2 separate regions of the Homo sapiens genome follow, and region 1 is linked to region 2. Evidence: fine-mapped expression QTL. A gene starts in region 2. The other region holds a variant in brackets. All regions are shown on one strand. Distances are from middle to middle.

The links. PIP is the estimated chance that this variant, and not a neighbour inherited with it, causes the effect. A credible set is the group of variants that fine-mapping cannot tell apart.
Region 1: its variant is the best candidate, but not a certain one, in a credible set for the expression of SMIM26 in whole blood (TOPMed, PIP 0.57).

What each region holds. Positions count from the first base shown.
Region 1 is chr20:18,658,123-18,663,363 of GRCh38, forward strand. The region is part of intron 4 of DTD1 (D-aminoacyl-tRNA deacylase 1); the gene reads left to right. Among named protein-coding and RNA genes, the nearest start is that of DTD1-AS1, 38 kb to the right of the region's middle. The variant A/T (reference allele first, on the strand shown) is at 3,152.
Region 2 is chr20:18,564,648-18,569,888 of GRCh38, forward strand. SMIM26 (small integral membrane protein 26) reads left to right here and starts at 2,785. Exons shown (of 2, transcript NM_001348957.2): 1 at 2,785-2,949; 2 at 4,589-4,913. The coding sequence starts at 2,832. The coding sequence ends at 4,758. RefSeq lists an enhancer at 2,473-2,572 and a silencer at 2,636-2,918.

The sequences.
Region 1 (5,241 bases), 93 kb after region 2:
TTAAGCCCCTTTCTGTGTAGGTATCTGGGGGAAGAACATTCTAGGCAGAGGGCATAAGAGTCTGAGATGTGTGTGTGTGTGTGTGTGTGTGTGTGTGTGTGTGTGTTTCCCCCACCCCTGTGTGTTGTTGTTGTTGTTTTTAAAAGATTTAGCTATAGGTCTGAATACCAAGCTATAGCTAGTGTCTCTTCTATTTATACTTAATTTCTTTTTTTTTTTTTGAGACAGAGTCTCGCTCTGTCGCCCATGCTGGAGTGCAGTGGCGCCATCTCGGCTCACTGCAAGCTCCGCCTCCCAGGTTCATGCCATTCTCCTGCCTCAGCCTCATGATATTTGTACTTAATTTCTAATAATTAAATGTTTGTTATGCTTTATGTCTTTGCCATAGATATTAATAGATGAAAATGTGGATGAACTTTGATGTTCTTTTCTGAGATGAAGTCATTGTGCTAGCCAGTTTCATTTCTCAATGTCTGTTAATGGTTTGTCATTCGAGTGCAACCCCATGTAAACACACAGGTAACTTGGTTAGTAAGTTGTAGGAAGAGGAAGATCTCTGACTTTACTTTTTCCTATTCTACTGGTTAAACATGACTGACATATAAATGTTTATCTGTTTCACAGAGTCAGTCTTTATTAACACTCCCCATGTTAGCATCAAAGAAGAAAGTTTTGGTACAAGCAGCCTTACCCACTTATGTAGGGGTGGGACACTGATTAGCAGTTGGTGTGACTGTGGTGCAGAGTGAGCCTTGCACTTAGAGAAGCAGCCCCCTGATGCCCCAGGCTTGGGTGTGGCATCTGACAGCTTTGGACAGGTCACTTACCTCTCTGTAGAAAGGTGGCACATTTGTGCACTCTGTAGAAAGAATGGCATCTGGCACATTTTAGGAATTGAAAATGAACTTTATTATCTGTAGTTCTAAGATATCTAAATGAATTCTTAAAAAAAAGAAAAAGCGTAAGCAGAGATCTCAAATGTGCATGGCTGCTTTCTTAAGAAGAATTTATATTTTCAAAACTAATACTTTTTGTATACTCCTCAAGAAAGTTTTAGAAAAGTGAAACAGACATCTTTTCTTTCTGGGACGTAGTCTGATGGATGCAAGCCTGAGTCAGGTGCTAACAAACTTCGTCAAAAGCAGTGCCCAGCACTGGTTTGCACCTTTGGCCCTGTTGCTCCCCACCATGAGTGCCCAGGCTGACCTGTGGAAGGGGACTCTCCCATTCTCCTCGATTTGCAGACTCTTTCCTCCCTCCCTTTATGAACAGCTACAAGTACATGTGCCCTTTCCATTATATTCATGATGTTTAATTTCTCTTTTGTCATATCAACTTAAGCTTGAAATTGAGATTACTTAACCATATCTTTTAATGTCATGCTCAGGTTTGTTTAATTTTTTAAATGTTGTCTTTTATAGAGTTTATTATGGTTAATCAAAAAATATATTTTTTTAAGAATGAGTTTATATTCTTTGGAGGGACATGGATGAAGCTGGAAACCATCATCCTCAGCAAACTAACATAGGAACAGAAAACCAGACACTGCATGTTCTCACTCATAAGTGGGAGTTGAACAATGAGAACACATGGACACAGAGAGGGGAACTTCACACACTGGGGCCTGTCAGGGAGTGGGGGGAAAAGGGAGGGAGAGCATTAGGACAAATACCTAATGCATACGGGGCTTAAAACCTAGATGACAGGTTGATAGGTACAGCAAACCACCATAGCACATGTATACCTATGTTAGCAAACCTGCACGTTCAGCACATGTATCCCATAACTTTAAAAAAGAAAGAAAGAAAGAAAAAAAATATTTTTTTACCAGCTGGGCATGGTGGCTCACATCTGTAATCCCAGCACTTTGGGAGGCCGAAGTGGTGGATCACTTGAGGTCAGAAGAGGAGTTTGAGACCAGCCTGGCCAACATGGTGAGACCCTATCTCTACTAAAAATACAAAAATTAGCTATGCGTGGTGGTGGAAGCCTATAATCACAGCTACTCGGGAGGGTGGAGGTTGCAGTGAGCTGAGATTGCACCACTGCACTCCAGCCTGGGAGCCAGAGCGAGACTCCGTCTCAAAAAAAAAGTATTTTTTATTTTTATTTTTTGAGATAGGGTCTCGTTCTGTTGCCCAGGCTGGAGTGTAGTGGTGTGATCATGGCTTACTGCAGCCTCAACCTCCCAGACTCAAGCAATCCTCCCATCCTAGCCTCCTGAGTAGCTGGGACTATAGGTGCACACAAGTACGCTTGGCAAATTTTTGTATTTTTTTGTGGAGACAGGGTTTTGCCATGTTGCCAAGGCTGGTCTCGAACTCCTGAGCTCAAGTAATCTGCCTGCCTTGGCCTCCCAAAGTGCTGGGATTACAGGCATGAGCCACCGTGGGTGGCCCAAAAAAGAAGCTTTTATTTAGCAAAGCAGAAACTGAAAGAAAAAGGAAGAAAGAAAACAAAAAGGCTTTTTATTACAAAAAAAATTATTTAGTATAAAGAGAGTTTAAAATAGACATCCTATCGGCTCATTTTAGCAACTTTGAGAAAATTGTGAAATATAAAATATTAAATAAATCCAGGGGATATATTTTGACTAGATAAAAATTAACCCTATATACCATAAACAAATTCAGAAGAAAAAAGTTAGGCTAGGAAAAAATATTTGTAATATTTTAAATTGAATTTTGTATTGAGGTTACTATATGTCACATGCAATTGTAAGAAATAATACAGTGAGATGCTGTGTACCCCTCACCCGGTTTCTCCTAACATGGAAGCATCTTGCAGAACCACAGATAATATCCCAACCAGGATATTGACAGTGATTTTATCTACCCACCTTTAGGCTGAGGTTCATTTTCTTTGCTTCTATAGATGTCTTGTTGATCCAGCACTGTCTTGCCTCCATTTTTATACCTTTGTCAAAAACTAGTTAGACTTGTGTGGTCTGTTTGTGGGCTCTGTTTTGTTCATTCATCTTTGTGCCTATCCCTCTGCCATTATCACTCTATCTTGATCACTGTAGCTTCATAGTAAGCCATAATGTTGGGTACAGTATTTCCTCCCACTTTATTCTCCTTTGTTAGACATGTTTTTAAGCAGTTCTAGGACCTGTGCCTTTCTGTATAAATTTTAGAAAAAGCTGTCTGTG[A/T]CTACAAAAAATGATGCTGGGAATTTGATAGGAATTACATTAAACCTGTACTCAATTTGCAGAGATTTAACTTTTTTACTGTGTTGAGTCTTCTAGTCTTTTTTTTTTTTTTTTTTGGGACAGAGTCTTGCTCTGTCGCCCAGGCTAGAGTGCAGTGGTGCGATCTCAGCTCACTGCAAGCTCTGCCTCCCAGGTTCATGCCATTCTCCTGCCTCAGCCTCCTGAGTAGCTGGGACTACAGGTGCCCGCCAGCACGCCTGGCTAATTTTTTGTATTTTTAGTAGAGACGGGGTTTCACCGTGTTAGCCAGGATGGTTTTGATCTCCTGACCTCGTGATCTGCCCGCCTTGGCCTCCCAAAGTGCTGGGATTAGAGGCGTGAGCCACTGCACCCAGCTGAGTCTTCTAGTCTTTAAACATGGTATTCCTCTCCATTTATGAAACTTTGTTTAAACAAAGTAATAATATTTGGAATCCATAAAGAGCACCTACAAATCAATAAGGAAAAAAAGGCTGAAGAGCCATAGGAAACGGAGAAAAGGCTGATAACAGGTAATGTCCAGAAGAAATATAAATGGACATTAAGATTTGAAAAGAGACCAGGCACAGTGGCTCATGCCTGTAATCCCAGCACTTTGGGAGACTGAGGCAGGAGGATTGCTTGAGGTCAAGAGTTTGAGACCAGCCTGGGCAACATAGTGAGACCCTGTCTCTACAAAACATATAAAAATTAGCCAGGCATGGTGGTACAAGTCTGTAGTCCTAGCTACTTAGAAGGCTGAGGTGGGAGGATCGCTTGAGGCCAGGAGTTCAAGGCTACAGTGAGCTATGATTGCACCACTGCGGTCCAGCCTGGGTGACAGAGCGAGACCCCATTTCTTAAAAAAAAGTTGTGAAAAGACGTTCAGTTTTCCTGATGATCCAGGAAATGCAAGTTACAAGCTCCCATGTTTTGCCTTGTTAGATAGGTAAAAATTAAAAATCAATAATACTAGCAATTTTTGTTGGCCAGGCTGGTCTCGAACTTCTGACCTCAAGCGATCTGCCTGCTACAGCCAGGCTGGTCTTGAACTCCTGACCTCAAGCGATCTGCCTGCCACAGCCTCCTAAAGTTCTGGAATTACAGGTGTGAGCCACCATGCCCAGCTGGGGGTGGGGGGGAGAGTATTTTTGGAAAGCAGTCAGCAAATGCTGAGTAAAATCAGAACCAGACCTAACCTGACTGAGCAATTCCACTTCTGCAAGCTGCTCCAGAAGCACATACACATGTGCAGAAGGGTATTGGTAGAAGGATGCTCAATACAGCGTTATCCAAACAACCAAAATGCTAATCAGTAGAGGAAAGGTTACACAAAGGGTGTCTTGTCCATAGTGTAGAATACTGTGCGCCAGTTAAAAAGAATGCAGTTGACCTATATCCTATGTGTACTGACATTTCCAAAGGGATAATAGGAGAGAAGTCAAATATTCCCCCCTCCTTTTTTTTTTGTTCCACTTTCCTTTTAAATAGATATAAAACAGCCATCTTGTCAGTTCTGGCCTTCTTGTCACATTGTTGAATGGACACAGCTGCTTCAGATAACTCAGTTGTGGCTCAGGAGGTGAAATTACTGATAAATTAACTTTCTTTTTATGGCTCTTATCGCAAAGTCATTTATATTGCTTTTGTTGTGTAGTGGGAATGGGGAATGAGGGTCCAGGGCCTGGAGAGGCTGGGGTTGTGACTGGGGCAGGAACCATGTGTCTCTGGTTATGCCCAGTGGTCTTATCCTCTCACTTCCCTGCCCCTTTGGTATCCTACCCAGGTCAGAAGGACAGTGTTAACCTCTCTATTAACAATGGCTTTTCCTTTGAAAAGGTCTTAATAGGGCTGGCATCCAAGTTTCATGGGATGCCCTAATAGGGCTGGCAACCTTGTTTTCATGATCTAGTTTGGTAGAAAAGTTTCATAGAAAGTGTCCATATAGCTGGGTGTGGTGGCTCACATCTGTAATCCCAGCACTTTGGGAGGCTGAGATGGAAGGATCAATGAGTCCAGGAGTTCTAGGCTAGCCTGGGCAACATGGCGAGACTCTGTATCTATAAAAAAAA
Region 2 (5,241 bases):
ACACTCCAGAGGGGGAAGGATGAGAGGAGACTGTAATCCAAGTGAGAAATGAGGCCTAAACAGAGACAGGGTATTTAGACAGAGGTGACAGAGGATGTCAGGTGAGATGATTCCAAGTTCCTGGCTTGGGCAATTTCTCAATCACTCTCTGAATCAGGGAAGAGAAAGGGAAGGTTTGTTTCCTGTTGGGAGTGGCATTGATAAATTCAATTCGGAACATTTTTTTAGTTTCAGGAGCTTGTGGAATATGCAGCCGAGGATGCATAGCAGGTTGGCAGTAACATGAATTTGCTTTCAGAGAATCTGGAGTAGATTTGAGAGTTATTAACATATAACATAGGTATCATGAGTAAGGCTGATGAGAAGGATGAGAAGAGACGCAAGCTTGAAACAATACCAATTTTTCTGTTTTGTCTATAACTATTGAGCTATAGTTCACATATAATAAACTGCACCCATTTAAAGCATACAATTGGATAAATCTTGACAGAAACCACCACAATAATCAACATACAGAACATTACCATCACCTCTCAAAGTCTCCTCAGACCCTTTTAGCCCTTCCCTCTCTCCATGCCCTTACTGCAGACAACTACTCATCAGCTTTCTCCCACTGGAGTTTGCTTCTAGAATTTCGTGACTGGTTTCTTTGGTGTCTAGCTTGCTTTTTCACTTAGCATAATCCATTTTGAGATTCATCGTATGGTTGTATTTATCAGTAGTTCTTTTTTTTTTTTTTTTTTTTTTTTTTTGAGAAGGAGTCTCACTCTGTCACCCAGGCTGGAGTGCAGTGGTGTAATCTCGGCTCACCACAACCTCCGCCTCCTGGATTCAAGTAATTCTCCTGTCTCAGCCTCTGGAATAGCTGGGATTACAGGCGCCCGCCACCATGCCCGGCTAATTTTTGTATTTTTAGTGGAGACGAGGTTTCACCATGTTGGCCAGGCTGGTCTCGATCTCCTGACTTGAGGTGACCCACCCATCTTGGCCTCCCAAAGTGCTGGGATTACAGGTGTGAGCCACCCGTACCCAGCCAGTAGTTCCTTTTTATTTGTAAGTGGTATCCCACGTTTTGTTTAGCCATTTACTCGATGGGTATTGGGGGTGGTTTCTATTTTTTCCTATTAAGAATAAAACTATGAACATTCATGTACATGGCTGTGTGCAGACACAGGTTTTCATTTCTCATGGATAACTAGAAACGGAATGCCTGGGTTATATGGTAGGCATATGTTCAACTTTTTAAAAACTAAGTTTTGCAAAGAGATTGTAACATTTTATGTTCCCATCAATAACAGTTCCAATTATTCCAAATCCTTACAGCTCTTGGCATTCTCAATCTGATTTTAGCCATTCTAGTAGGTGTGTAATGGTCTCTTATTGTATTCTTTTAATGTCCATTTCTGTGATGACTAATGATGCTACTGTGCTTATTGGTCATTTGTATATCTTCTTTCGTTCTATTCAAATTTATTGCCTGGTTTTTAGTTGGGCTGTATTTTTATAACTGAGTTGTAAAGCGTCCTCATATATTCTGGATCCAAGTCCTTTTGTTAGATATATGTTATTATGAATATTTTATTCTGTGGCTTGGCTTTTCATTTTCTCAACTGTGACCTTCAAAGAGCAAAAATTTTAATTTTTTTTTAAAAGCCCTATTTATCCATTTTCGCTTTATGCATATATATATAAAATGAGATGGGGTCTCACTATGTTGGCCTTGCTGGTCTGGAACTCTTGGGTTCAAGCAATCCTCCCTGCTCTACCTCCCAAAGTGCTGGGGTTACAGGCATGAGCCACCCCGCTTGGGATGCCTTTTTTATTCTAAGAATTCTGTGCTTATTCCAAGATGGCAAACATATTCTCCTGGTTTTTTTCTAGGCTTATATTAAATAGTTTTAGCTTTTACATTTAAGTCAGCGATCCATTCAGAGTTAAGTTTTTTATCTATTTCTGTAGGGCAGAACATCAGTTTTTAAAGGGTGGGCAAGGTGAAAAGAACCCTGAAGGATACCAGGGAAAATGATGTTTCTGAAGCCATGAAAGGTGCAGGTGGGGTCAGTGGTGGCAAATGCTTTCGAAACCAAGTTTGAGTGTGGCTGAAAAGTACTTAACGTTAATTTACCGGGCCTACCTTGTGCCAAGCACATCACACTTGCTCTTAAGTTGTTCAGTCTATTGAGGGCATCTTGCTTTAAAAAATGTATGCATAAGACAAAAGCTGGAGGTGGTCGGAGTCGAAGGAGATTTTTTGTTTTTGAGACATGGGCACGTTTGTATGAAGGATAAACGTCAATAATGAAGATGGGGGAGGACTTAGGGTGTCAATGAGGGGAAAGGCCACTGAGGCTGGAAAAAATAGTACCCAGAGCCTAGTGGAGGGATTAGCTTTGGCCTGGAAGTATTTAAAGTTCACCCAGAGTTCCGGAAAGAAAAATGGAGGAAAAGAAGAGTTGCGGGGAGAGACAAGCGGTATCCCTGCAAATCTGAAAACTGGAAGAGGAATTGGAAGTAACCTTTTCGGATACCGTCTGGAGCCCACGAAGGCATTACAATTTTGCAAGTGAGAAGCTTCTCCTCTAAGTTGTCATTTAGTCCTCGTCACGTGGTAAAAAGTATCGCACGCCCACAGTTCTACACCCGAAAGTCCGGACACCTGAGCGACTTTCCGGGCCAGAGGCCCCAAGGTGCATCGGGGCAGAGCCGGAAGCGGACGCTGAAAACTGGCGGCTCCTTAATGGTTCCGGCGGCAGGGACCGCAGCGACGCCCTCACCGGAAGTCCCGCCTCTGCCGTGGGCCTGCGAGAATCGAGGCACTCGCTGGCGTACCCATGTATCGAAATGAGTTCACGGCCTGGTACCGGCGGATGTCGGTGGTCTACGGGATCGGCACCTGGTCTGTGTTGGGCTCACTGCTTTACTATAGCCGGACAATGGCGAAGTCGTCAGGTAGGGCTCTTCGGCGGGGCCTGCCCCGGAACACACGGCCTTCGATGAGAGTTCCCCGGGGGTCATGGAAACAACTTCCCTGTCCTTTAAATCCCAGGTTTATTCTGCAAAACTAATTGAAACGGGTGCTAACAGCCGTTTGTTATAATGGAATCTGCAAAGAACTAGACTCCAGGAATTATTAATACCTTGTAAATATTGTTTCCTAAATCTGAATCATTTACTGGATAGGGCCGTCCCCATATTCAGAATTGGAGGAATCTGTGTAAAGTGCAAGGTGGACTTTCAGAGACTCTGGCCGGTGATTTTTAAAGAGTGATGCTTCAGTACTACTGTCCCTCATCGTATATGGCGAGCAATTTCAGTACTTTTAGCAGCCAAGGCGTATTAAAATCTTCCAGTTACTAAGCGCAAAGGGAGAAAAGTCTCTCAGCTTTGAAAAATATGCTGGAAATCTGTAGAGACATTAAGTTGATTAGTGTGGTTGCTAGGGGCTGAGGGGTTGGGGAGTTGGGGAATGACTGCCAAAGGTATGGATTCCTTTTGTGGATGAAAGTATTTTTAAATTGATTGTGGTGCTGGTTGCACAAATCTGAATATACTAAAAACATTAAATTGTATATTTTAAGTGGGTTAATCGTATATGTTAATTATATCTCAGTAAAGTTGTTGTGTAAAAACTATGCTGAAGATTACATTTGGTGATGAAGCTGTCAGTGGCCTGAAAGTACATGTGTCCAGCATTAAGCATTTAAAAACATTTTGGCCGGGTGCAGTGGCTCACGCCTGTAATCCCATAACTTTGGGAGGCCGAGGTGGGAGATTGCTTGAGCCCAGGGGTTCGGGACCAGCCTGGGCAACATGGGGAGACCCCCATCTCTACCAAAAGAAAAAGAAATTTTTATATATAATATTTTATATTTACTTTATATGTAATATATGGTAAAAATACTTTACATTTATATATAAAGTAAAAATATTTTAATGTCCATATTTATGTTTTCTTTCTTTCGTTCTTTTTTTTTTTCTTTTTGACAAGGTCTCACCCTGTCGCCCAGGCTTGAGTGCAGTGGCATGATCTCGGCTCACCACAACCTGCGTCTCCGGGCTCAAGTGATTCTCCTGCCTCAGCCTCCCGAGTAGCTGGGATTGCAGGCGCAGGCCACTGCTGCCCGGCGAATTGTTTTATTTTTTTTTTGAGACAGAGTCTAGCTCTGTCGCCCAGGCTGGAGTGCACTGGCGCTATCTTGGCTCACTGTAACCTCCATCTCCCAACTCAAGCAGTCCTCCTGCCTCATCCTCCCCAGTAGCTGGGGTTATAGGCCCATGCCACCACGCCCAGCTAATTTTTGTATTTTTAGTAGAGATGGGGTTTCACTACGTTGGCGAGGCTGGTCTCAAACACCTGACCTCAGGTGGTCCACCTGCCTCGGCCCCCACAAAGTGAGATTGGGATTACAGGCGTGAGCCACCGCACCCAGCTTTTCTTTTCCCTTCCTTTTCATTCCTTCCTTCATTATTGGGGTTGGAGAGAGTGGATGTAATTCTTACCTTAGTTAATTTCTAAGACTTTAATGACTGCTTTCTAAGTTAATAATTCAGGTGTTCTTTTTTTTTTTTTCTCTTAATGGTGATAAAGTAGACCAAAAGGATGGCTCAGCAAGTGAAGTACCCAGTGAACTCTCTGAACGCCCAAAAGGATTTTATGTGGAAACAGTTGTCACATATAAAGAAGATTTTGTTCCAAATACAGAAAAGATCCTCAACTATTGGAAATCATGGACTGGTGGCCCTGGTACAGAACCATGACTGGCTGCTGAATTCTGAAAACCAGGACTTGGTTCAACATTTAAATTTGATAGTTGCCCTGATTCCCATTTTGGGTTTGTGAAAAGTGTATGTATTTAAATTTGCTGTAAAACATAATCACTAATAATATGCAATAAATATTTTCTTGAAGGAAACTATCTGCGTTTTCTTTTTTTTTTTTTTTTTTGAGACGGAGTCTTGCTGTGTCACCCAGGCTGGAGTGCAGTGGCTCGATCTCGGCTCACTGCAAGCTCCGCCTCCCAGGTTCATGCCATTCTCCTGCCTCAGCCTCCCGAGTAGCTGGGACTAAAGGCGCCTGCCACCATGTCTGGCTAATTTTTTGTGTTTTCAGTGGAGACAGGGTTTCACCGTGTTAGCCAGGATGGTCTCCATCTCCTGACCTTGTGATCCGCCTGCCTCAGCCTCCCAAAGTGCTGGGATTACAGGTGTGAGCCACGGTCCCCGGCCTACTATCTGCATTTT